Linked DNA regions of Homo sapiens: region 1 is linked to region 2. Evidence: fine-mapped expression QTL. A gene starts in region 2. The other region holds a variant in brackets. All regions are shown on one strand. Distances are between the middles of the regions.

The links. PIP is the estimated chance that this variant, and not a neighbour inherited with it, causes the effect.
Region 1: its variant is the best candidate, but not a certain one, in a credible set for the expression of ARAF in whole blood (TOPMed, PIP 0.71).

The regions. Positions count from the first base shown.
Region 1 is chrX:47,602,136-47,614,060 of GRCh38, reverse strand. It overlaps SYN1 (synapsin I), which reads left to right. Exons shown (of 13, transcript NM_006950.3): 2 at 6,863-6,920; 3 at 7,025-7,116; 4 at 8,682-8,838; 5 at 8,994-9,083. Among named protein-coding and RNA genes, the nearest start is that of SYN1, 12 kb to the left of the region's middle. The variant T/C (reference allele first, on the strand shown) is at 7,099.
Region 2 is chrX:47,554,346-47,566,270 of GRCh38, reverse strand. It overlaps ARAF (A-Raf proto-oncogene, serine/threonine kinase), which reads right to left and starts at 5,066. Exons shown (of 16, transcript NM_001654.5): 1 at 5,020-5,066; 2 at 3,208-3,362; 3 at 2,942-3,045; 4 at 1,372-1,474; 5 at 1,132-1,286; 6 at 921-1,019. The coding sequence starts at 3,303. It overlaps LOC124905184 (a long non-coding RNA gene), which reads left to right and starts at 4,832. Exons shown (of 2, transcript XR_007068225.1): 1 at 4,832-5,187; 2 at 7,724-10,335. RefSeq lists enhancers at 2,147-2,441, 9,724-10,225 and a silencer at 4,700-4,999.

The DNA of each region.
Region 1 (11,925 bases), 48 kb before region 2:
CCCCTGGTAGCAGTGTTCCCCCTTGGAGAACCAGGACCTCTAACCTTGCAGAGCCCTGAGGGAACAGGAAGCACAATTTCAAAAGTGGATCACTGGGATTGCTGGTAAGCTGGGCCACTCCTTCCTAACCTCTGTGTCCCCAAACCGGTGTATTCTACCTGTTAGGAACACAGCACCTACAATGGCCATTGATTTAGGGTTGACACTGTTTTGGAGGATGGTGCCCATTCTTGCATGATCTCACCTTCAACCTGGGATCTTAGCTGTGGCTGCACCAAATTGTTCCATCATTCCATCAGGCCAGCAGCTCCCGGGTGGCGTGGTGTGTAATACCATCAGTTAATTCCATGGTCATGGGCCCACTTTTGCACCTCCTTTGCTTTGCATTCCTTTACTTTGCTATAAAGTGTGTCCTTTGGTTTGACGCAGTGTTATGCAGGGTCTCGTGCTGGTGGATCAAACGTTATGTAAGCCCTTAGACAGTGAGCTGGCTGAGGTCCTGCAGTAAGAAAAGGCAAACTCAAATATGGAATATTCCAGTCAAAATCGATTACTGTTCTTTGCAGGATGGAAGGGGCCCAATCTAATCAGCTTGCCACAAAGTGGTTGGTTGGCCTTCTGGAGGGATGGTGGCGTGTCAGGGATTCAATGTTAGTCTCTGTTGCTGGCAGATTGGACATTCAGCAGTAACACTGCTGCCCCCACACATAGCTTCTCTCTCTGCTGCTATTGCCACTTATTCATGTGCCCATCTGCTAACACTGGGGTGGCTGATTAGAGCCTGGCTGACATCATCGGGCTGACTCATGCTGTCTACCTGGTTGCCTAGTGTCACTTCCATGGCGCCATGGCAGATGCTGTCTGGTGGGTGTTAACACACGATCCAAAGATCCTCGCTCCTCCCTTTTTTTTTTTTTTTTTTTTTTTTTGGAGACGGAGTCTCGCTCTATTGCCCAGGCTGGTGCTGTGGCACGATCTTGGCTCAGTGCAACCTCCACCTCCCAGGTTGAAGCAATTCCCCTGCCTCAGCCTCCCGAGTAGCTGGGATTACAGGCGTGCGCCACCACGCCCGGCTAATTTTTGTATTTTTAGTAGAGATGGGGTTTCACCACATTGGCTAAGCTGGTCTTGAACTCCTGACCTCAGGTAATCCGCCCACCTCGGCCTCCCAAAGTGCTGGGATTACAGGCGTGAGCCACCGCGCCCAGTCTCACTCCTCATTTCTTGCCCACTCCTAGGTGTCTGCCCACATTTCTGTATCCCAGACCTCTTTGTCTGGATCTTCCAGTCTTTTTATTTCCAGGCCCCTGACCAACCAGCCAAACCATTTACCACTGCCCATAAGTGGATATATGTATTCTAATCTTGAGGCACTTCTCTTTCTGCACAAAGGAGATGAGCAGGTGCACAGCCTGAAGCTCTGCCCACTGGGAGCTCTGCCACTGTCTTTCAAGGCCATTCCAGTTGGGTTATAGTGCAACCACTGCCCATTTTTGGCTTCCACCCACATACTAAGACAACCAATTTGTGAACCAAGCTTAGACCTTTCCCTCTTTCATCAGCTAGTTTTAAGGAGTCCCCTTAGTGAGACAGGCACTAGCACAACAGTGTGGAAGACATGGGGATCAGGGTTACTTACCTGCTCATGCACCTTGCTTGGTTCTGCTTGGGCTCAATCCTGACTGCTGGGCCCACCTGACTTTATTATTTGGCGGGCCCAGCAGGACCCAGCTTATAATGGGAACTTCTGGATGCACAATCATTTGGTGCCTGGTCAAGCATTCTGTCTCTATCAGGGCCCAGCACCTCAATGGGGTGTCTTTCTCAAAAGGCGTAAAATTCTCTGCTGCAGATGGCATGGCTTTGCTCCAGAACCCCAAGGGCCTCCCACTCAGGCTTCCCATAAGCTCCTCACTGCATCTTTCCCCACTACTGACACCTCCAGTATCATAAGATCTGCCAGATCATCTGGCCTAAATGGCAGGACTGCTTGTACCACAGCCTGGACCTGCTGCAGAGCCCTTTTCTGCTCTGGCCCTCACACAAAGCTGGTAGCTTTACATGTCGCCTGGAATATGGGTCAGAGCATTATTTGTGTGTGGGGGACATGCTGCCTCCAGAATGGGAAGAGGCCTCCTAGGTATTGTGCTTTCCTCTTCATGGTGGAAGGTGCGTGATTCAATGCTTTGCTCTATTCTTTGGAGGGGCTGTCCTGGTTTACTGCCCTGGACCACTGGATTCCTAAAAATTTTACTAATGCATCGGTCCCCTGAGTCTTTGTGGAGTTTATCCTCCACCCTCTGTAGTGGATGTGTCTTACCAGGGCAATATGCTCACCCTCTCTTGCTCATCTTGCACAATCAGTATGATGTAATCCATGTGGTGGTCCAGTGTGCTATTCCATGGGATGTCCAGATAGTCCAGGTTTCTCTGGACTATATTATGACACCAGGTGAGAGAGATAGCATAGCCCTACAGCAAGACCATCTATGAATATTATCATCAGTCTCATGTGAGTGTAAACTGTTTCTGATCCTTTTTTCTAATCAGAATAAAAAAGAATGCATTTGCCAAGTCAGCAGCCACCTGCTGTACCTGAGGTCTTATTAATCTGCTCTGGCAATGACAGCGTGTCCAGTATGGCAGGTATAACTAAGGGTACTACTTGATTGTGCTTGCAGTAATCTGCAAGCATTCTCCAGGACCCATCTGACCTCTCCAGGGGCCAGACTGCTCAACTCGATGGAGATAAGATGAGACCAACACCCCTGCATCCTTTAGATCTTTCAATGTGGCATTGATTTCCATCATCACCCATAGGATGCACACAATATTGTTTGTGGTTTATTGTTTTGTTCAGGGCATGGGGGTGTGCGCCATTTTAGAAGCTTCTATTTGGACTTCCCTACTGAAACAGCTCTTATCCCACAGGCTGAGGAGCCCATGTAGGGGTTCTGACAACTACAAAGTATGCCATTGCAATTACGCATTTGTGAACTGAGGAAGTGACCACTGGGTGGGTCTCTAGACCCACCAGACCCACTGTAAGCAGGACCTGGGCCAGGACTCATTTATCACCTTACCACTACTGTGCTTCTCAGCGTGACTGGTACCACCCTCACCAGCATGTTTCTTATTAATTTCATAAGTTGAGTGTATCCTCCAGGCCTTAATCAGCTGGTGGGTTTTCCAGACTTCAGTAGTATATCTACTCCAACATGTCTGCTTCTTTGAGCCCTTTAATCCTTCCCTGTGCAATCTGCCATGGAAGTTCTGCTTCACTTAGTGTGGGCCATTGTTTACTCCAGGTTTCCAAATACCAGTGTGTTAGTAACACTTCCTAGAGTCCTCGCCAGGGTTTTAAGTTCCGTATCCTGGGAGAGCACACCAACTTCCTGTTCTACCTCCTTCGCCCATTGTCCTCAGGATCCAGTCTCATGCATACCTTCCCAGCTCCTGCCAATACGTACTAGCCAGATTCTTTAGGTTCTTCTACAGATCATTTCTCTCCCTTTGCAAGCCTAGAACCTGTCCAGTCAGGTTTCACTAGGATTTCACCCTAATTTTTGGTCTGGTTTCCAGGAGGGTAGGTGGGGGGTAGACTCTGAGGGGGGCAGGCATTGTCTTACAAAGCACCTGCATCATCCGAGGCCTCTGCATTATCTTCAAGCAGAAGGTCTATATTCTAACTCAGGGGAGTAGTCTACTTCAGCAGGCCCAGTGGATGCAGGTGAGTCTGTAAGTTCAAGGTGTTTAACTGCATCTGCCCAGATATCCCCATCTCAGAGTCCTACTCCTGTCCTATTAGGGACATGAGCATGGCCCAGGAGATGTGCTGGGCCTGAGAAGTCAACTTTCTCCGAAGCTCCGCCACCACGTAGAATTAAATTCTGAGCCTGGCCCTCCCTTCTGTCTGCCCTCTGACTGCAGGAGATGAGGGTTTCCTTAAATGCAGTCAGGGAGATCCTCTGGCTTTCACATTTTGCCTTGAATTCACCCTGAGCATGTCAGGTCTTTCTTCAGCTACTCAATGGCGTTTAGGGAATAGTCACCCAAGTCTGGTTACCATTTCCCTGACATCACTCAAGTTCCAGGGATATTTCACCATCCAGTACATTCCCTTCCACCAGAATCCCATTACAGCCCACCATCAGGAAAAGTCACCGCTACTCCAAAACCCTGGGGGCCTGCGCTGTATTCTCCCACCTGGGAGAAGAAATTCCACACAGCATCTTTTCCTACTACTGACACCTCCAGTGTCATAGGATCTGCTGGATCATATGGCCTAAGTCACATCCTGCTTGCACCACAGCCCGGACCTGCTGCAGAGCACTTTGCGTTGCTACAGCATATCGGAGGCTATCTATGCCCCACCTCCCACTACTGATGGGTCCTCACTGCCATCTGGCTGCTGGGTAACCCAGCTCCAGAATTGCATTAGACCACCCTTGTAGTTTGACTTCCATGGCCCACTGTTTTAGGTTGGGTTCCCTGGAAAAAGACTTTGAGGTGGAGATTTGCATGCAGGAGGCTTACTGGAGTGTGCCATTGGGATCAACACTTGTGAGGAGGGTTGGGTTGAGCAGAGGAAGAGGCTGGCTCAAGATGTAGTTGCCTTAGGGGCCTCCGCTGCTCTTAGGGGGAGCCCTGGGGCTGGGAGGGTCCTTCAGAGTCAGCCCAGATTGAGGCAAGGAGGCTGGCCTTTCTTTCCCTTCATAGACCAGACCATGGGGATGCCCTCATGAAGTAGGTGTAACCTTGGACAAGGCAGTTCCCTGTGACAAGACAATTCCCAGTGGGGACACAGCCATGAGCTGTCAGTAGCTGCCATTCAAGGTACATTGTCCCTGAAGAGGAGGCCTGAGCAGACCACCACAGTATCCAACTACACTTATGGTCAGAAAAGTTTTAGAAACAGTGATACACCCTCATCATCCCCACTCATCAGTTTATAGATGAAAAATGTGCAGGGCTGAGAGAGATTCTCTCTCAACACTTCTGAGGGGATAGTGTCAGCGATGGTGTGTGTGTGTGTGTGTGTGTGTGTGTGTGTGTCAGAGAGAGAGCAAGGAAAAAGAAGTAGCTGTACTTGGGGTCTCTTGCATATGTCAGTCAAGTCACCAGGGTCCATTTGTGCCGTGTGTGTGTGTGTGTGTGTGTGTGTGTGTGTGTGTCTGTCCAAGACCCTGATTGTATGTGTGTCAGTGACCAGTAGCCCTGAAAGTGTCTCTCCCCCTCATCCCCCTTCCATGATAAACCTGATTGAGGATGAGCTTCCATCCCTGGAGCAAGCAGCCTGTTGGCTAGAAATCTTGAGCCTGGGGGAGGAGGCCACCGGAAACCAAGCCCAGCTGGGGACGGGCCCGGGGACAATGACATAGCAGTTCGTGATGTTCCTACTGCTGCTCCCACTCCCCCTCCCTCCTGTTGCTCCCTCTCCTCCTCAGCTGCATTCCTCCCTGCCCCCCATCATTGCCAGCTACACTGGCTTCTCTAGAGCCACCCAGCCTGCACCACTCAATCCACTCCTCCTTATCGGATGCAGCTGCCCACCTATGGCCATTGTGTTTCTCACAGCACACAACCACACATGGTGAATGTGCTCCTCCTTGCGAAAGGGCCAGAGAGCAGAGAGATGCTTCAGGCCACACAGCCAGACACAGGCACTGACATATACACAGGCACTAAAAAATACACAAAAACAGGCACGCTTCAGAGAAATGTAGTTTCTTTCTCTCCTTCCTTCCTTCCTTCCCCTTCCTTCCTTCCCCTTCCTTCCTTCCTTCCTTCCTTCCTTCCTTCCTTCCTTCCTTCCTTCCTTCCTTCCTTCCTTCCTTTCTCTTTATTTCTTTCTCTTTTTTGCCTAGGTCTTGCTCTGTTCCCCAAGCTGGAGTGCAGTGGTGCAATCACGGCTCACTACAGCCTCGACCTCCTGGGCTCAAGCCATTCTCCTGCCTCAGCCTCCCCAGTAGCTGGGACTACAGGCATGCACCACTATGCCTGGCTAGTTTTTGTTTTTTGGGTTTTTTGGAGATGGAGTCTCGCTCTTGTTGCCCAGGCTGGAGTGTAATAGCACCATTTTGGCTCACTGCAACTTCCGCCTCCTGGGTCCAAGTGATTCTCCTGCCTCAGCCTCCCAAGTAGCTGGGAATACAGGCATGCACCACTACACCTGGCTAATTTTGTATTTTAGTAGAGAAGGGGTTTCACCATGTTGGTCAGGCTGGTCTCGAACTCTTGACCTCAGGTGATCCACCCGCCTTGGCCTCTCAAAGTTGTGGGATTATAGACGTGAGCCACAGCCCTCGGCTTTTGTTTTTTTTTTTTTTTTTTCAATTTTTTTTGTAGAGATGGGGGTCTCTCTATATTGTCCAGGGTGGTCTCCAACCCTTGGCCTGAAGCAATCCTCCTACCTCCAGCCTCCCAAAGTGCTGAGATTACAGGCGTAAGCCACCGTACCTGGCCAGATAGGTGTTTTCTAAGGTTCTTTGCTGTTTACCGGTCTCCATGCAATTTCAAAGTATGTTCTAATTTACATAGTGCTGCTAATTTTGTGAAGTTTTTTTAAAAAATTTACAATGACAATGTGATGAGCAGACTAAATTTTGGGAAATACCTGCTCTCTGCAGTGTAAGGCCACATTTTACAGTTTGCAATGTCCTTTAATATTTTTGCAACTCCATGAGGATTACAACAGACATTATTCACAAAGCACTCTTGATTTTTTCAAAATATTTCAATAATTATAAGGCACTTTGTGGTTTCTTTAGTAGCATTGAAGGGGCAAAAGGGTCAAGGGCCTGTGTTTTGTCTTCCCTTCTGAGATTTCATCATTGACAGATGTGTTGTTTTTCCTCTCCAGGGCAAAATACTTCAAAGGGAAAAAGATCCATGGAGAAATTGACATTAAAGTAGAACAGGTAAGTTGGGACATTTGGACCTGGGGGTCAGTTGTCCATACTGCAAACTGAGTGGCCATTTTTGTGTGATGTAGGTGAATCACCAGTTTTTTTCTCCTTCCCAGGCCGAATTCTCTGATCTCAACCTTGTGGCCCATGCCAATGGTGGATTCTCTGTGGATATGGAAGTTCTTCGGAA[T/C]GGGGTGAAGGTCGTGCGGTGAGTATAAGAAGGGTACCTTGGTGTTATGAGCAAGGCATAAGAACTCTCCCTTAGAGCTGGGGGAAAGTTCCTACCTCCCCACCCATCCTTCTGTGGGCAAGAACTTAGGCATGGAATGTGGGGAGACAACTTTTCTTCAGAAAAAGAGCCAGGGACCCCAGGATGCCACAAGTCAGACTTTAAAAAAAAATATATATATATATATATATATTTCAGACAGGGTCTTGCTCTGTCTCCCAGGCTGGAGTGCACTGGCACAATCATGGCTCTCTGCAGCTGCAACCTCTCAGGCTCAAGTGATCCTCCCACCTCAGCCTCCCAAGTAGCTGAGACTACAGGTGCGCACCACCATGCCTAGCTAATTTTTATGTTTTTTGTAGAGATGGGGGGGGTCCTCACTATGTTGCCCAGGTTTGTCTCAAACTTCTGGGCTCAAACAATCTACCTGCCTTGTCCTCTCAAAGTGCTGGGATTACAGGCATGAGCCGCCACACCCAGCCTTCAATTATTAATTAAATAAACATTTGCTAGACATCTGCTGCATGCCAGATGCTGCTCTCAGGACTTCATATTCAATAAATATTTATTGTACACCTACTGTGTGCCAGGAGATATTCTACATGCTGAAAGGCCAAAAAAAAAAAAAGAAAAAGAACCTGGGCCTTATGAAACTTACATTCTACTGTGAGATACACACAATACACAAATAAATAAGAAAATGTAAAAGTGCTAAGAAAAAACATAACAGTGGCCGGATGTGGTGGCTCATGCCTATAATCCCAGCACTTTGGGAGGCCAAGGTGGGTGGATTGCTTGAGCCCAGGAGTTCAAAATCAGCCTGGCCAACATGGTGAAACCCCGTCTCTACTAAAAATAAAAAAATTAGCCAGGCGTGGTGGCAGGTGCCTGTAATCCCAGCTACTCGGGAGGCTGAGGCAGGGAAATCGCTTGAACCCGAGAGGCGGAGATTACAGTGAGCCATGATTGCTCCAGCGCCTGGACAACAGAGCAACAGTCCGTCTCAACAGAAAAAAAAAAAAGAAAAAAATATATATATAGCACTAAAGCAGATGTAGCAATTGTTGGATGATGGTGGGGTCTGCAGTTGGGATAGGGTGGCCTGGTTGCAGGAGAGACATTTGAGGAAAGACCTGATGGAGGTGAAGGAGTGATCCATGCAGATATCTAGGGGGGAAGTGCTTTAGGCAGATGGAACAGCCTTGGTAAAGGTCCCAAGGTTAGAATTTATTCTGGGCAGAACACTGAAGACAGCTTGCAGTCTGAGAGATGGTGACCAGGGAGTTGTCAGAGCTGTGTCGGTAAGCTGCAAGCTGACCTTGCTGAGAAGGGAACAGGTAGGAGAGGCTTAAAGGGGATCACCAGGTGGGCAGAGGGTAGAAAGGGTGCACTAGGCAGAGGGAACAGCTCACACATGTGTGCAGAGGTGAGAAACCACTTTGCAATTTCTGGGAGCTATGGAGATTTAAAAACTTGGTCTTTGTTTCGAGAGTGATTGGGAGCTTCTGGGGGAACTCTCAACACTCCTACCCCTGCCACACTAGGTCTCTGAAGCCGGATTTTGTGCTGATCCGCCAGCACGCCTTCAGCATGGCACGCAACGGAGACTACCGCAGTTTGGTCATTGGGCTGCAGTATGCTGGAATCCCCAGTGTTAACTCCTTGCATTCTGTCTACAACTTCTGTGACAAGCCCTGGGTGGTAAGTAACAGGAAGGGTGCCACTGGCAGAGGGAACAGCTCATGCATGTATGTGGGAGCTTGAAACCAGTCTGCGATTTGGGGAAGTGAGGGTGTTCAGAAACTTACAGATTCGTGGTGAAGGACTCACTGACCCAGCTCTCCTGGTTCTCATAGTTTGCCCAGATGGTTCGACTGCATAAGAAACTGGGGACAGAAGAATTCCCTCTAATTGATCAGACCTTCTACCCCAATCACAAAGAAATGGTGAGTTTGGGGAAAATAGAGTGGGCAGGAGGGAAGAGTCATAACTACTGCAATAATATTAAATATTGGTATATTATCAGCAGTGCGATATCAAGAGTGTGGCTGCTGTGTGCACGTGGAGTCATGAAGTTGCTTTGTGATAGGGTCTACCGTGAATTTCCTTATGCTTACAAGGAAAACTAAATCATGATCCATTCTAATATGTATCAGATCCTGTTACTCATGTTGTCTATTTTTGCCAGTATTAAAAACCTATTTCTAATGTGAATTGACAGAATTAATGTAATGAATCAGAATATATTACATATAGAAATTAAGTCATTATTACTAACATTATCAAATATTCCTTCTGATAGAAATTTTACCTATATTCAAATTAGGATTGCCAATAACATTTATCAATAATAATGTTATAAATTAAATTGTTGGCAAGGCACGGTGGCTCATGCCTGTAATCCCAGCACTTTGAGAGGCTGAGGTGAGCAGATCATGAGGTCAGGAGATCAAGACCAGCCTGGTCAACATAATGAGACCCCGTCTCTACTAAAAATACAAAAATTAGCTGGGCATGGTGGTGCGTGCCTGTAGTCCCAGCTACTTGGGAGGCTGAGGCAGGAGAATCACTTGAACCCGGGAGTTGGAGGTTGCAGTGACCAGAGATCACGCCACTGCACTCCAGCTTGGGCAACAGAGTCCCACCTCAGCCTCCCTCCTATTAATTAATTAATAGAAATTGAACTTTTGGTTACTATTATGAAATATAATCACTGGCCGGGCGCGGTGGCTCATGCCTGTAATCCCAACACTTCGGGAGGCCGAAGTGGGCGGATCACCTGAGGTCGGGAGTTTGAGACCAGCCTGACCAACATGGAGAAACCCTGTCTCTACTAAAAAAATACAAAATTAGCCCGGCGTGGTGGTGCATGCCTGTAATCCCAGCTACCTGGGAAGTTGAGGCAGGGGAATCGCTGGAACCCGGGAGGCGGAGGTTGTGGTGAGCCAAGATCACGCTATTACACTCCAGCTTGGGCAACAAGAGCGAAACTCCATCTCAAAAAAAAAAAAAAAAAATATATATATATATATAATCACTAATATTACAAATTATCACTAATATTATAAATTATTTTTACTGTTGTAAATTATGAGTACCTATGTCATGAATTAAATTATAGTTTCTAGTAGAAATTGAATAATCATTACTAATAGCATCAAAGATTATTGCTGTTATTACAAATGATTATTGCTATTACAAATTATGCTCTAATATAAATTATAAGTACCTGTTTTGACTTACATAAACATGGCATGCAGTGGAGACTACCACAGTTGGGTCATTGGGCTACAATGTGCCAGAATAAAATATGCTGAACGTTTAAATAATAGAAATTGAATTATCATTGCTAATATCATCAAATATAACAACTAATATTACAATGCATTACAGTGTTACAAATTAAGTTTATTACTATAAATGATTAGTACTTATGTTGTAAATTGTTATAATTATTTTTTAAAAATTTAAACCCAAAGTGGGAGGATCTCGTGAGCCCAGGAGTTTGAGACCAGCCTGGGCAACATAGCGAGACCCCATTTCTACAAAAAATTTAAAAATCAGCCCGGCATGGTGGCATACACCTGTAGTCCCAGCTACTTGGGAAGCTGAGGTGGGAAGATTGCTTGAGCCCTGGAGGTTGAGGCTGCAGTGAGCCATGATAGCACCACCGCATCCCAACCTGGGCAACAGAGTGAGACCCTGTCTCAAAACATTAAATAAATAAGTAAATAAAATTAAACCATTAGTACAAACAGTGTAAAAATTTTTACAGATATAACTATTACCAGTGTTACAAATTAAGATTACTAATATAACCCATGAGTACCTGTGTTTTGAATTATCTTGTAGTTCCTAATAGAAATAATTACTAATATGGTTAACATTCTAACTGCTATTATAAAAAAAATCACTAATATTAAAATTTTGATTACTAATATAAATTATGAGTACCACAGTTATGAATCAAATTTTAGTTACAAATAGAAATTAAATAATTGTTACTAATGCAATCAAATTGTATAAGTAATTTTGTCAATTTTTACCAATATTACAAATTATGTTTACTCATATAAATGATCATCACCAATTTTATGACTAAAATTACAATTAAATATAAATATTGACCCAACACTATCAACTTGATTAAATAAACATTGCTACTAATATTAGCAATTCTTACCAGTACTACAAATTATGATCACTGATATACGTCAACAGTGTTGTAAGTTAAGTTTACTTACAGATAAAGATTGAATCATTAGTTTTTCTTTTTTTTTTTTGAGGAGGAGTCTCGCTCTGTCGCCAGGCTGGAGTGCAGTGGCACAATCTCAGCTCACTGCAGCCTCCGCCTCCTGGGTTCAAGCGAATCTCCTGACTCAGCCTCCCGAGTAGCTGGGACTACAGGTGCGTGCCACCACGCCCAGCTACTTTTTGTATTTTTAGTAGAAAAGGGGTTTCACCATGTTGGCCAGCATGGTCTCAATCTGCCCGCCTCGGCCTCCCAAAGTGCTGGGATTACAGGCATGAACCACCATGCCCGGCTTGAATCATTAGTTTTAAGGAAACCCAATTTGTTTATCATTATTATTAGTCTACATTCTTTGAGAGACAGTAGAGCAGAATGTGATTAAGAGCATGGACTCTGTAGCCAGAATTTCTGTATAAGAATCTTACCTCCACAACTTATTAGTTGCTTAACACAGGAAAAGTTACTTAAACGCCCTGTACCTCAGTTTATTCATCTGCAAAATGTAGGTAATAATAGTTCCCGCCTCATATAGTTGG
Region 2 (11,925 bases):
TGGAGTAAACGCCTAAAGGCAGGATAGCAGGCCACACAGATAGTGGGGAAAGGGTAATGTATCATATTTTATAATTATATATTATAATTACATGTACTTTTCAAATGTTATATAATATGTATCATCTATATAAAAATGGCAATGTTTTAAAATATACATATTACCATATTGTTATACATACATGTTATACATATGATATATGCTAAACATATTGTAAAGTTACAAAAATATGTTAATGTTCCCTTCACTATCCTGAAATGAAACTCAAAGGTAATTAATGCACATACACTCATAATTTAAAATAATACCCTAACTTTATTTTATGTATCATATAAACATGTATGATGTTCTACATTATATAAAATTATGTAATACAACATGATACAATAACATAAATATACCATAAAATATGCACATCATAAAATATATATTAGAGCAATAATATATTTTAATATAGCTATAGTTTTATATAATATTTAACATAAAAAAGCAATAAAAGGGAAGTAATTTATGATAAAATAATACGTATTTCAAAATGGAAAGGCTTGAGTATGATTATACTAGAATTAGCAAAGTAGTTAGATGCTTATAAATATATTTATAATTAATAACAAAAAAATTGATTATTTACACTGTACCAGATCCTGTTCTAGGCACTGAACATGTCTTAACTCATTTAAGCCTCACCAGAACCTTTATATGGTAGAAAGTATCATCATCCCCTCTTTACAGATGAGAAAACTGAGGCCCAGAGAAATGAGGTGACTTGCCCAAGGTCCCAGTTTCATGCCCTTACTCACACTTGTAGGTGCTCAATAAATGTTTGTCAAGTAAACAAATGAATAAAGTATGGCTCGTGGTCTACAAGAGCCCCAAGATCTTTTTCTCCCCCAGCAGCTCTTCAGCTAAGGCATCCCTACCTGGGACCCTGGGGGGTTAGCAACTCATTCAGGGGGCGGTTCGAGGGAGCCTCATGCTGTCTGGAGCCTCCGGACAAATCCTGGACACTGTGGTAGAACCTTGAGGGCATGAAGGGTATAAAGCAAGGGGACACGGGTCAGCTGTCTGTAAGGGCCTCGTGGCTGGGCCTCTGTGCTCCCCATCCCCCCACCCACCCCAGGCTGGGCTCACTGTTGGCGGTTGGTACTCATGTCAACACAGACTGTGGGGACCTTGGAGGAACAATGCTGGTGGAACTTGTAGCCACAGGTTTGGCAACGGAAGCCATGGAACAGAAACTTAAGGCAGAAGTCACAGAACGCCAGGCTGAAGAAGGTCTTCCGTACCTGATGCCACAGAGCAGGGAAGTTTGAGACCTGGTCAAGGACACCCCCAACCATGGTCCACCCCCACCGTCCACCCTGCACTCACAAAATTGTGCATGGTCAGCGGGACATCTTCAAGGACCTCGACAATGAGCTCCTCGCCATCCAGGGGAGCAATGGCTGTGTCCCAGGCAGTGACCGTCTTTCGTCTGCAGGGGGCATGGAAAGGAATGAGTGGGAGGTTGGGTAGGGGCCATGGGGAGGCAGGGAACCCCCACAAGTCCCTCCAAGCCTGCTACCCACAGGGTCATGTCTGGCATGTTTAATTCTCATCACAGCAACTCTAGAAATTAGTCACTATCCTTGCCCCAACTTTACAGATGGGGAAACAGGCTCAGAGGGATAAAGTGACTGGCCCTGGGCCACAAGGGTAATGAGAGGCATGACGGTGTGAAGAGTCCATGCTCTGAAACGGAAGGGGAGAAGCAAATGAAACTAAACAACTACATCTTAGAAGCGCTAAGCCAGCCCCTGAAAAGGGGGCTGAGGAGGCACTGAAACAACAAATAAAGTGCAGTGTGTGAACTGCATCATAAATTAAGGAAACCCACGAGAGAGGAATAAATAAAGTCAGCAAGACCCAACTCAGCAGACAGAGAATGGGGAAAATGAGGAAGAAGAGACCTGATGAAGTCATGACATCGTGAAAGGACAAAATAGATGAAATCTGGGCAGAAGTGATGGACCAGGGTGAGGACTTGGGGGCCAGGGGAGAATGAGTTGCTGACCTTACAGGCCAATAAACCAATGAAGTAACAAAACAAAAGATGGATGAACTCATAGATTACTTGAACTACAGTAGTCCTCCCTTATCTGTGGTTTCACTCTCCATGGTTTCAGTTACCTGTGGTCAACCGGGTGGGAAAGTATTAAATTGAAAATTGCAGAAATAAACAATTCATAAGTTTTAAATTACGTGCATTCTGAGTAGCGTGATGAAATCCTGCACCATCCCACCCAGGATGTGAATCACCTCTTTATCTAGCAGATCCACACTGTCTACGCTACCGCCCATCACTTAGTAGCCTGCTCAGTTATCAAACAACTGACTCAATATCATAGTGGCTGTCTTCAAGTGACCGCCATTTTACTTAATAATGGCCCAAAAGCACAAGAGTAGTGTTGGTGGCAATTCGGACATGCCAAAGAGAAGCTGTAATGTGCTTCCTTTAAGCAAAAAGGTAAAAGTTCTTGACTTAAAAGAAAATCATATGCTGAGGTTGCTGAGATCTACTGTAAGAAAGAATCTTCCATCTTTGGAATTGTGAAGAAGGAAAAATAAATTCATGCTAGTTTTGATGTCATACCTCAAACTGCAAAAGTGATGGCCGGAGTGCATGATACGTGCTTAGTTAAGACGGAAAAGGCATTACATTTATGGGTAGAAGACAAGAATAGAAACATGTTCCGACTGATAGCAATTGGGTTCGGTACTATCTATGGTTTCAAGCATCCACTGGGGGTCTTGGAACATGTACCCTGCAGATAAGGGGGGACTAAAGACTAAGGGAAGACTAATGGAAGACTCTGTGATAAAGTACAGAAGGAATCAAATGACTGAGGAGGGGATGGGAGGTGGGACACCCAGTGGGTGGGCGTGGGGCTGCCACACTCACCCCTTGATGAGTCGGTAGACCACACAGCAGTCCTGATTTAGACCCCGCACCTTCAGGGCCTTGTCTAGAGAGTCGTAGACACTCATGCCATCCCGGACAGTCACCTGTGTGTATGTGCAGATGTAGGGGTCCTCAATGCCCAACAGAAGCGCAGCTGATGTTCCCATCCTTCTGCAAAGGCCTCCCCCAACCGTTGTCACCCTTTTGATCCCAGAGTTACAACTGGGTCCATCCACAGCCCCTGCCATTTCGCTTCCATGACTCACCACCGTGCGTTGCTTGTTGGGCAGGTATACTTTGACGGTGCCCACTGCCCGGGATGGCTCGGCCCCATTGGCAGGGGGGCCCCGTGGTGGCTCCATGGAGCCTTAGATTTTGTCAAGATGGGCTGAGGTGGGGCTGGGCAGGTGCCATGGGGCTCCTACAAGAAGGCAGACAAGAATTCAGAGGTCCAATAATGATAGTCTAGAAGCAAAGTGGCAGGGGACAAAATAAAATTCAAAGTCCAGGCTCCTGTCGCCCCCTGCAGCCTAATTTTCACACGACAGTCCAAGAGATCCTGCTCACATCTGAAGTCCTTCCAGTTCCTTCTCTGCTCAGGCCCTCCTGTTGCTTGTCTCACTCTTGAGTGCCAAGGTCTCAGCTTCACTGCACAGGGTTGCGGGGGAGAGAACAGGGAAGGGGGACAGAGCATACTGTCTTGGAGGGTAGAGGAGCACACAAGACTCTGTGCTGGGGACCAATGGGGAAGTCAGTACACACTGCACTGAGCCGTCAGGTACATAAGAAGCACGAACAGAATGTCCTGGGTTTTTTTTTTTTTTTTTTCTGTTTTTTTTTTTTTCTGACAGAGTTTCGCTCTTGTTGCCCAGGCTGGAGTGCAATGGCATGGTCTCAGCTCACTGCAACCTCCACCTCCCAAGTTGAAGCCATTCTCCCGCCTCAGCCTCCTGAGTAGCTGGAACTACAGGCGTGTGCCACCACGCCCGGCTAATTTTTTGTATTTTTAGTAGAGACGGGGTTTCACCATGTTGGCCAGGCTGGTCTCGAACTCCTGACCTCAGATGATCCACCCGCCTCAGCCTCCCAAAGTGTCCTGGTTTTTTAACAGAGAACGGGGGAAATGCCAGTTACTGTGGTGAGGGAGGAGTCGCAGGCACGGTGATGGGAAAGAGAGGATTATCAGATACTGCCCTTAGTTTGGGGAAGATGGAGGTTGCACCAAACATGTCCTTAAAGGGCACTGTGGACATCCCTAAGCCCTGGGGTGTAATGTTGATGTTAGGACCACAGACACCGTTGTTAGGTGGCTAATGGAAGTCCCAAGCCTCTATGATGAGGAATTCATGGGGGGGGGGGGTCACTACATACTATGCGGAAGGGAGATGTAACAGGCGTCACTAGGGACTGTAATGGGGAGAAGGGTGGAAATGGAAATGACCAGACATTGAGCCGAACTGGGGAGGTAATGGTGGACCACCAGACATTGTCATAGCAAAAGGAGAAGGAAGGTATGGTGTTGCGGGGAGAAAAATGGAGGTAAAGAGGGAGCTCCAAAATTCTCCTTGACAACCTGTGAGGGGTCACAGGCATATTACTGGTCTAAACTGAATGAGGGATCATGGAAGGCGGTTACAGAGGCGAGAATCCTGACATTCTCCCGGCGGGGGCGGTCAGACACTGATCCAGAATAAGGAAACCGGGGAGTGAACCGCGTTTCCACACACTCCCCGCAGTTGGTAAGGAAAGGTCATTGGACACCTTAGCGGGGGTTAAGACGGAATCCCGGCACCACTCGGTCGGGTCCCGCCTACCAAAGGGCTTCCGGCTCTGCGCAGGCGCACCACCACTAGCAGCGGGCGAAACCATCACCCGCAGCCTTGCCCGCCTATTCCTGTTACCCACCCCACCCCCGCTGTCGACGATGGTCTCGCCCCGGGTCAAACCACTCCTCCGGTTCCGGGCAGGGAACGCCGGGGCCCAGGCGCAGCCATCCTGGAGCTGAGCTTTCGGTCCGGGCTCCCTGCCCGTGCCCGGCAGCCGCTCCAGAAACCGAGCCCTCCCGGGCCCGCCCTCACCTGTCACGCCGCTACAGCCGCCGCCGTCTCCATCTTGGGCCTCTCTTCTTGTTTCCTCACAGAGTCCGCCTCCGTCGCCTCTCGGACTCTCGTTATTGGCTCTGCGGGACTCAGCCTTCCACCCTTATTGGGTCAGGGTCACGTCTGTCAAGGCAAGACCAACGGAATGTGAGTCGTGTTCCGGATTAGGAGGGGCCGCCTGAAACGTCAAGATCTGGGGCAAGCGCTCGTCCTGACTCGCGCAGGCGCAGTTGAGGCAAGACCTGCGTGCCTAGGGCTTTAACCCCAACAGTGGCATAGACGTATAAAGCAGAACACAGGTCATTTGGGGCTGACCTTAGGGCTTTGGCATCTGGGCGGAGAAATCCTTAAGTACCCTTTTTGGGCCAGTGCCCTAAGCACCCTTTTATGATTTTCCCGTGTCTCAGTTTTTACCATCTTTGAAATGGGTTGGAATCAGAACCAATGATCGGCGATGTTCACCAGCTCTAGGAGACTGTAGTTCATAGCCTTTGAGGACAGCGGGTCTCTGGTGTGGCGGGGGCTGGGGGACTGGGCCTAGGAGGGGCGGCCTGCTGTCTGGGAGGCTTCCTTTAGGAATGGGGTTGATTAGGACTATGAAAAACTAGTCACAGGTGGCCAGGTGAAGAGGGAAGTGCGGACCTGGAAGGGAGCACGATGCCAGTCAATGTGTGGAGGTATTGTGGGGTAAACACAAATTTTTAAAGATCGAATTTTCCCTGGTGTCAAAAGAGAAAGACGTCTCTCTTAGAGCATTTCCTTTAGAAAACTTGTAACTGTAAAATTTTCTCTGTCCCTTTGAGATGTATGTAAGTCCTTTTAAAAGCTAAATCTCTTGCCAGTTTTACATCCCCGGAATGTTTTTCTTAAGAGCCTTGTAGCCATCTCTTTGAAATGTAAACATCAATGAAAATAGCACCCCTGTCTTTCCCTGTCTTCGTGGGAATTTGATCTGCGTGCCTGGCTTCAAGTTATTACCTGCTTGTCATAGAGATATGAGTTTTCGTTTTCCTTTGGATAAAGGCAATTAACTAACACAGATAGCCACCCTAATTACCAGGTGAATTTGGGATGAAGTATGTGTACCAAATGGTGCCGTCAAGTTTCTTGAGCACAAGTTATTGTTTGAGAATATGTTTGTAATGGGCTGTATCTGCCTGCTACATAAACGGATGAGATTTCTTTCTGTCTTTGAAACCTCTTTAGCAGATTGTTTGTGATGTGCATCACAGTCTGGTGTAATGCTTATTCAGTTATAAAACTTTCCATTCCTGCCGGGTGCGGTGACTGATGCCTGTAATCCCAGCACTTTGGGAGGCCAAGGCGGGCGGATCACTTGAGGCCAGGAGTTCGAGACCAGCCTGGCCAACATGGCAAAACCCCGTCTTTACTAAAAATGCAAAAAAAAAAAGTCAGCTGGGCGCGGTGGCGCGCGCCTGTAATCCCAGCTACCTAGAATGCTGAGGCAGGAGAATCACTTGAACCCAGGAGACAGAGATTGCAGTGAGCTGAGATCACGCCACTTGCCACTTGCACTCCAGCCTGGGTGACAGAGTGACCCTGTCTCAATAAAACAAAAAACAAAAAAAAACTTTTCATTCTTGTCTACTTTGTGGAGAGGATTCATTGGGTTGGCACGAGATTCTCTTTTTAATTATTTCCCCAACACCATGAATGGCCTGTTGTGTTTCAAGTGACTGCATTCTCCTGTTTGGAGATTTAGCATCCTTTGGCAATGTAATGGGAAAGATCAGAGGAAGGTCATAGGTGAGGGGGGGCCTCAACATATTTCAATCTGTATTTATCACATGGCTTTCTCTGTCTATAAGAAGGAAGACAGAAGTTCTGCCTACTGGCCTCCCATATAATTTCCATTTCCCAACTCCCCTTTTCTTTTCTTTTCTTTTCTTTCTTTTTTTTTTTTTTTTTTTTTTTTGAGACAGAGCCTTGCTCTGTCACCCAGGCTGGAGTACAGTGGCAAGATCTTGGCTCACTGCAACCTCCGCCTCCTGGGTTCAAGTGATTCTCCTGCCTCAGCCTCCTGAGTAGCTGGGACTACAGGCGCCCACGACCATGCCTGGCTAATTTTTATATTTTTAGTAGAGACGGGATTTCACTATGTTGGCCAGGCTGCTCTGAAACTCCTGACCTCAAGTGATCTGCCCACCTCGGCCTCCCAAAGTGCTGGGATTACAGGCTTGAGCCACCACACCTGGCCCCAACTCCACTTTTCTATTCGGATCTTCACCATTTAATGGCTAAAAAAATTTTTTTTTTTTTTTTAGAGACAGGATCTCACTATGTTGCCCAGGCTGGTGTCGAGCTCCTGGCCTCGTTCTCCCAACACTCTAGGATTACAGGCATGAGCCACCATGCCCAACTCCAATGGATAAAATTAAAAAGACTGACAATACTATGTATTGATGATAATGTAGAGCAATTGGAACTTTCATACATTGCTATTGGGAGTGTAAAGTGGCACAAGCACTTTAGAAACAGTTTGGCAGTTTCATATAAAATTAAACATAGACCTGCCATGCAATCAATCCAGCAATCTCACTCCTAGGTATTTACTCTAGAGAAATGAAAACACATGTCCAATGGTGTGCTGGTAAATGTTTGACAACCAACGCTCCAGGAAGAAAACAGCTCTAATTTGTACTGTCCCCATGGCTTATTTCAGGCTACCAATATGACAGTCGCTGAACCAGATTTAAAAGAGATGCACAAAATCCGCTCTGGTGAGCCAGCTACAACATGCTACTATTACAATATGTCTGCACAAAAACTTGTATGCAAATGTTCAGATTAGCTTTTTCTTAATAGCAAAAAACTGGAAACAGCCCAGGTGTCCAGAAACAGAACTGACAAAAAAATACAACAATGGGATTATGGAATACTACTCAGCAATGAAAGGGAATAAATTACTGACATATAGGAAGAGCATAGATGAATCTCGTAGACATGGGGCAAAATGAAAAAAGCCAGACACAAAAGAGAAATACTGTATTCCACCCATATGAAATCTAAACCAGGCAAAACTAATCTATAGTGAAGGAAATCACATTAGATGTTGTTTTGAGGGAGAATGACTGAGAAGTGCATTAAAGAACTTTTGCAGGTGATTGGAATGTTCTGTATGCATTTGTCAGAACTCATTGAACTCTATTTTTATTATTATCTTTTTTTATTTTTGAGACAGAGTCTGGCTCTGTCACCCAGACTGGAGTGCAGTGGCACGGTCATGGCTCACTGCGCCTTGACCTCCTGGGCTTAAGTAATTCTCCCACCTCGGCCTCCCAAGTAGCTGGGATTACAGGCATGCACCACCACACTCAGCTAATTTTTAAAATTTTCTGTGTAGATGGAGTCTCACTATGTTGCCCAGGCTGTTCTTAAACTCCTGGGCTCAAGTGATCCTCCCACCTCGGCCTCCCAAAGTGCTGGGATTACAGGCATGAGCCACCTTGCCCAGCCTCATTGAACTCTACACTGAAAATGGATATATTTTGCTTTATGTGTAATATACCAGAATAAGAACTGCATGGCAAAAAAAAAAAAAAAGAAGAAGGCCACAAACATAATTCTAAACATTTGTTTCTTAGAAATTCTTATTGGTTAGAGAAATTATTTTGAAAAAATTCTTTTTTCTGAAATTAAATCCCTAGACCCTGAATCTCCATCTCCCACTGCAGGAGCCCTGGCAAACACCTCAGTGCCAGTGGGGTCAGGAACAACTCCTGTTTGGAGCTCAGTGAGGGGCTTTGGGGAGGGGAATAGGGGAGTGCATTTTACATTTCAATTCACTTAAATATTTAATTTGTTTAAAAACTTTAATTTCTAGGCAGTATTTGAAGACAGACCTCTGGCTCCATCGTTCAACGTTTACAAAAAGATGAGAAAAATGCCAGCAAAAGCTCATTGCTTTTGCAGGATGGGGGAAGGAGGGGAAGGGTAGGGGACATAGCCCACTCAAAGGCAATGCTTTCTCCCCCAAGGACTCATAGACTCACTTCACACCCATCTCAACTGGCACTTCAGCCAAGTACCTTACAGGTACCTGACACTTTAAAGCATGAAGTCCTTTAAAGTGATTTAGGTTTGGTTTTCTTTTGTTTTGCGACAGAGTCTCGCTCTGTCACCCAGGCTGGAGTGCAGTGGTGCAATCACAGCTCACTGCGGCCTCGACCTCCTGGGCTCAAGCCATCTTCCCAGAAAGCTGGGACCACAGACGCATGTCACAGCGCCTGGCCTTTTTGACTTTTTGTCATTATCATCACCACCATATTTAAACCATTAGAAGTACCATGTATTAAGACAAAAATTAAAACCCAAACTAGTTGATTATAGTTTTCTGACATCCCCCTTGTAATTATCCATCTGGAAAAAAATGTAAAGTTATCAAAGTACTTGTTGGTTTTTATTGTTGTTCATTTTAAAGTCTCAGAAATATGTCTGAAAATTTTTTAAAATCTGAAGTGTTCACCGACTGCCGTTGTAATGCTACTTTTATAGCTGAGGACATTAAGGTTCAGGCTGCCCTAACCAGAGGGGAAAAGGAGAGAGTGCTCCAGGACTTCGTTTGATAAAAAGTGTTTAACAAGGGTGCGGGCCATGGGCACCTCCTTAAGGAATCCCAGATCCACCCAGCAGTCCTGCGTGCCTGGGGACCTCCTCTAAAACGTGCGACTCTCATTTTCCAAAGCCGCCGACCTCACCGGCCCCTGCTGCGGCCTGGAGAGCGCCATCTCTGGGACCCCCTCCCACCGCCGTCCTCTCAGCTGTTCATTTCGGGGGAGTTGACCGTGCATGCACATTTCTCTGAGACCGGGAACACAGGTTTGACTCAGGCCCCTCAACCACCAGCTCCTCTCTGCCAACCCAGGGAGCCTCTCTCCGCAACAGGCCCCCCCCAACAGGCAGCGAGATCTGCCAATAGCAGTGCAGTAGAAGGCGGGCCTTGGGATACCCTGGGCATTGATAGGCTCTACTTCACCACGGAGCCACTGACAGACCAATAGCTATGCACAGGAGGTGGCCAATGGGAGGTGTGTGGGCCTGAGACCGGCTACAAACAAGGAACTTAATGTTGCTTTTAAATCAGTGATGAGGCAACAGTAATTGTTCCATCGAAATCCTTAATAAAAGTAGAGTGTGGAAGTTTCCACTTCTGTACATTCCTAGAAGGGATTTTTAATATACAACCCTGGGGGGAGAGGTGTAGGAAATTTACAAGTAAGTGAATTTAACCATGACTTTTTAACTGTTCTTATTAAAAAGTCTTTCTTAGCAAAATTCATTGAGTAGTAATTTCAATTTGCTATCCCTATGAAAAACACACCATTTAACAGACAGAGTTTTGGGGGTTTTTTTGTGTTTTTTTTTTTTTTGTTTTGTTTGTTTGTTTGTTTTTGGAAACAGAGTCTCGCTCTGTCGCCCAGGCTGGAGTACAGTGGCGAGATCTCGGCTCAGTGCAAGCTCTGCCTCCCGGGTTCACAGCATTCTCCTGCCTCAGCCTCCCGAGTAGCTGGGACTACAGCGTGCGCCACCACGCCCGGTTAATATTTTGTATTTTAGTGAGACGGGGTTTCACCATGTTGCCCAGGCTAGTCTCGAACTCCTGAGCTCAGGCAATATGCCTACCTTGGCCTCACAAAGTGCTAGGATTACAGGCGTGAGCCAGCACGCCCGGCCTGTTTAATTATTTTTTTTAAGTTCATTATATGTTATATAGGGTACCTCCATATTTTCATAAAATTAAACAAAAGTGCAGGCTGACTTTGGGAGGCCGAGGCGGGTGGATCACGAGGTCAGGAGATCGAGACCATCCTGGCTAACACAGGTGAAACCCCTTCTCTATTAAAAATACAAAAAAATTAGCCGGGCATGGTGGTGGACACCTGTAGTCCCAGCTACTCAGGAGGCTGAGGCAGGAGAATGGTGTGAACCCGGGAGGCAGAGTTTGCAGTGAGCCAAGATCACGCCACTGCACTCCAGCCTGGGCGACACAGCGAGACTCCTTTAAAAAAAAAAAAAAAGTGCAGGCTGATATATTTTCCACTTCCAAACCCAAGGATCAGATGAGTGGAAAAACATGATTAAACCAAATAACAGTCGTATAATTTTATTATTAAAGATTTACTCTGATGAGGACATTCTGTGCTAAGTATGATTATTTCTCAAATAGGAAAATATTTACTAGTTAAGCAAAGGGATCAATATGAACCCATAAACAAACACTGAGCAGTGGGGGCAACCTTTAAGATGCCATGGACAGTGACAGACACCTCTCTCCCTCCCTGGTAGCTCCCTTGGTAGGGATTGCAATTCAGTATGGTCAGCAATTATTTTTAAAGTGTAATTAATTAAACAAAGAAACAAAAAGCATTTCCACCAAACAAGGAATTCTGAAATGTCTTCTTTTGGTTTCAATCAGAAATACACTTTGTAAAAATTTTCTCAAGGTTTACACATTTATTCCAAGCACATATACACTGACCCACAGTAGATTTCACCACCCATCATAGGAGAAAAAAAAGTGTAATATCTGTTGGTTTACATCATCTATATTTAATAAATTTTGATTCAATTTATAAAATTATTGTAAATGAAATTTCAAATATACTCCAAATAATTTTCATTTTTTCTGGATAAGTGAACCACATGTTGTCTTTGCTATATCATTATTGATATAATATAACATGTAGTCCTCTCTGTATATAGTATAAAATAGCTTGCAATAGTTTTTGTCACCCATGTAAATGTTGCCTACCATGATGTGGTATGAGAAAATCAATTCTGAAGTTACCCAGAATGCCTTAATACTTGACCACTTATCTAGTTAGTGTGTGTGAATATCCTCAGGTCCTGCTATGTATTAATAAC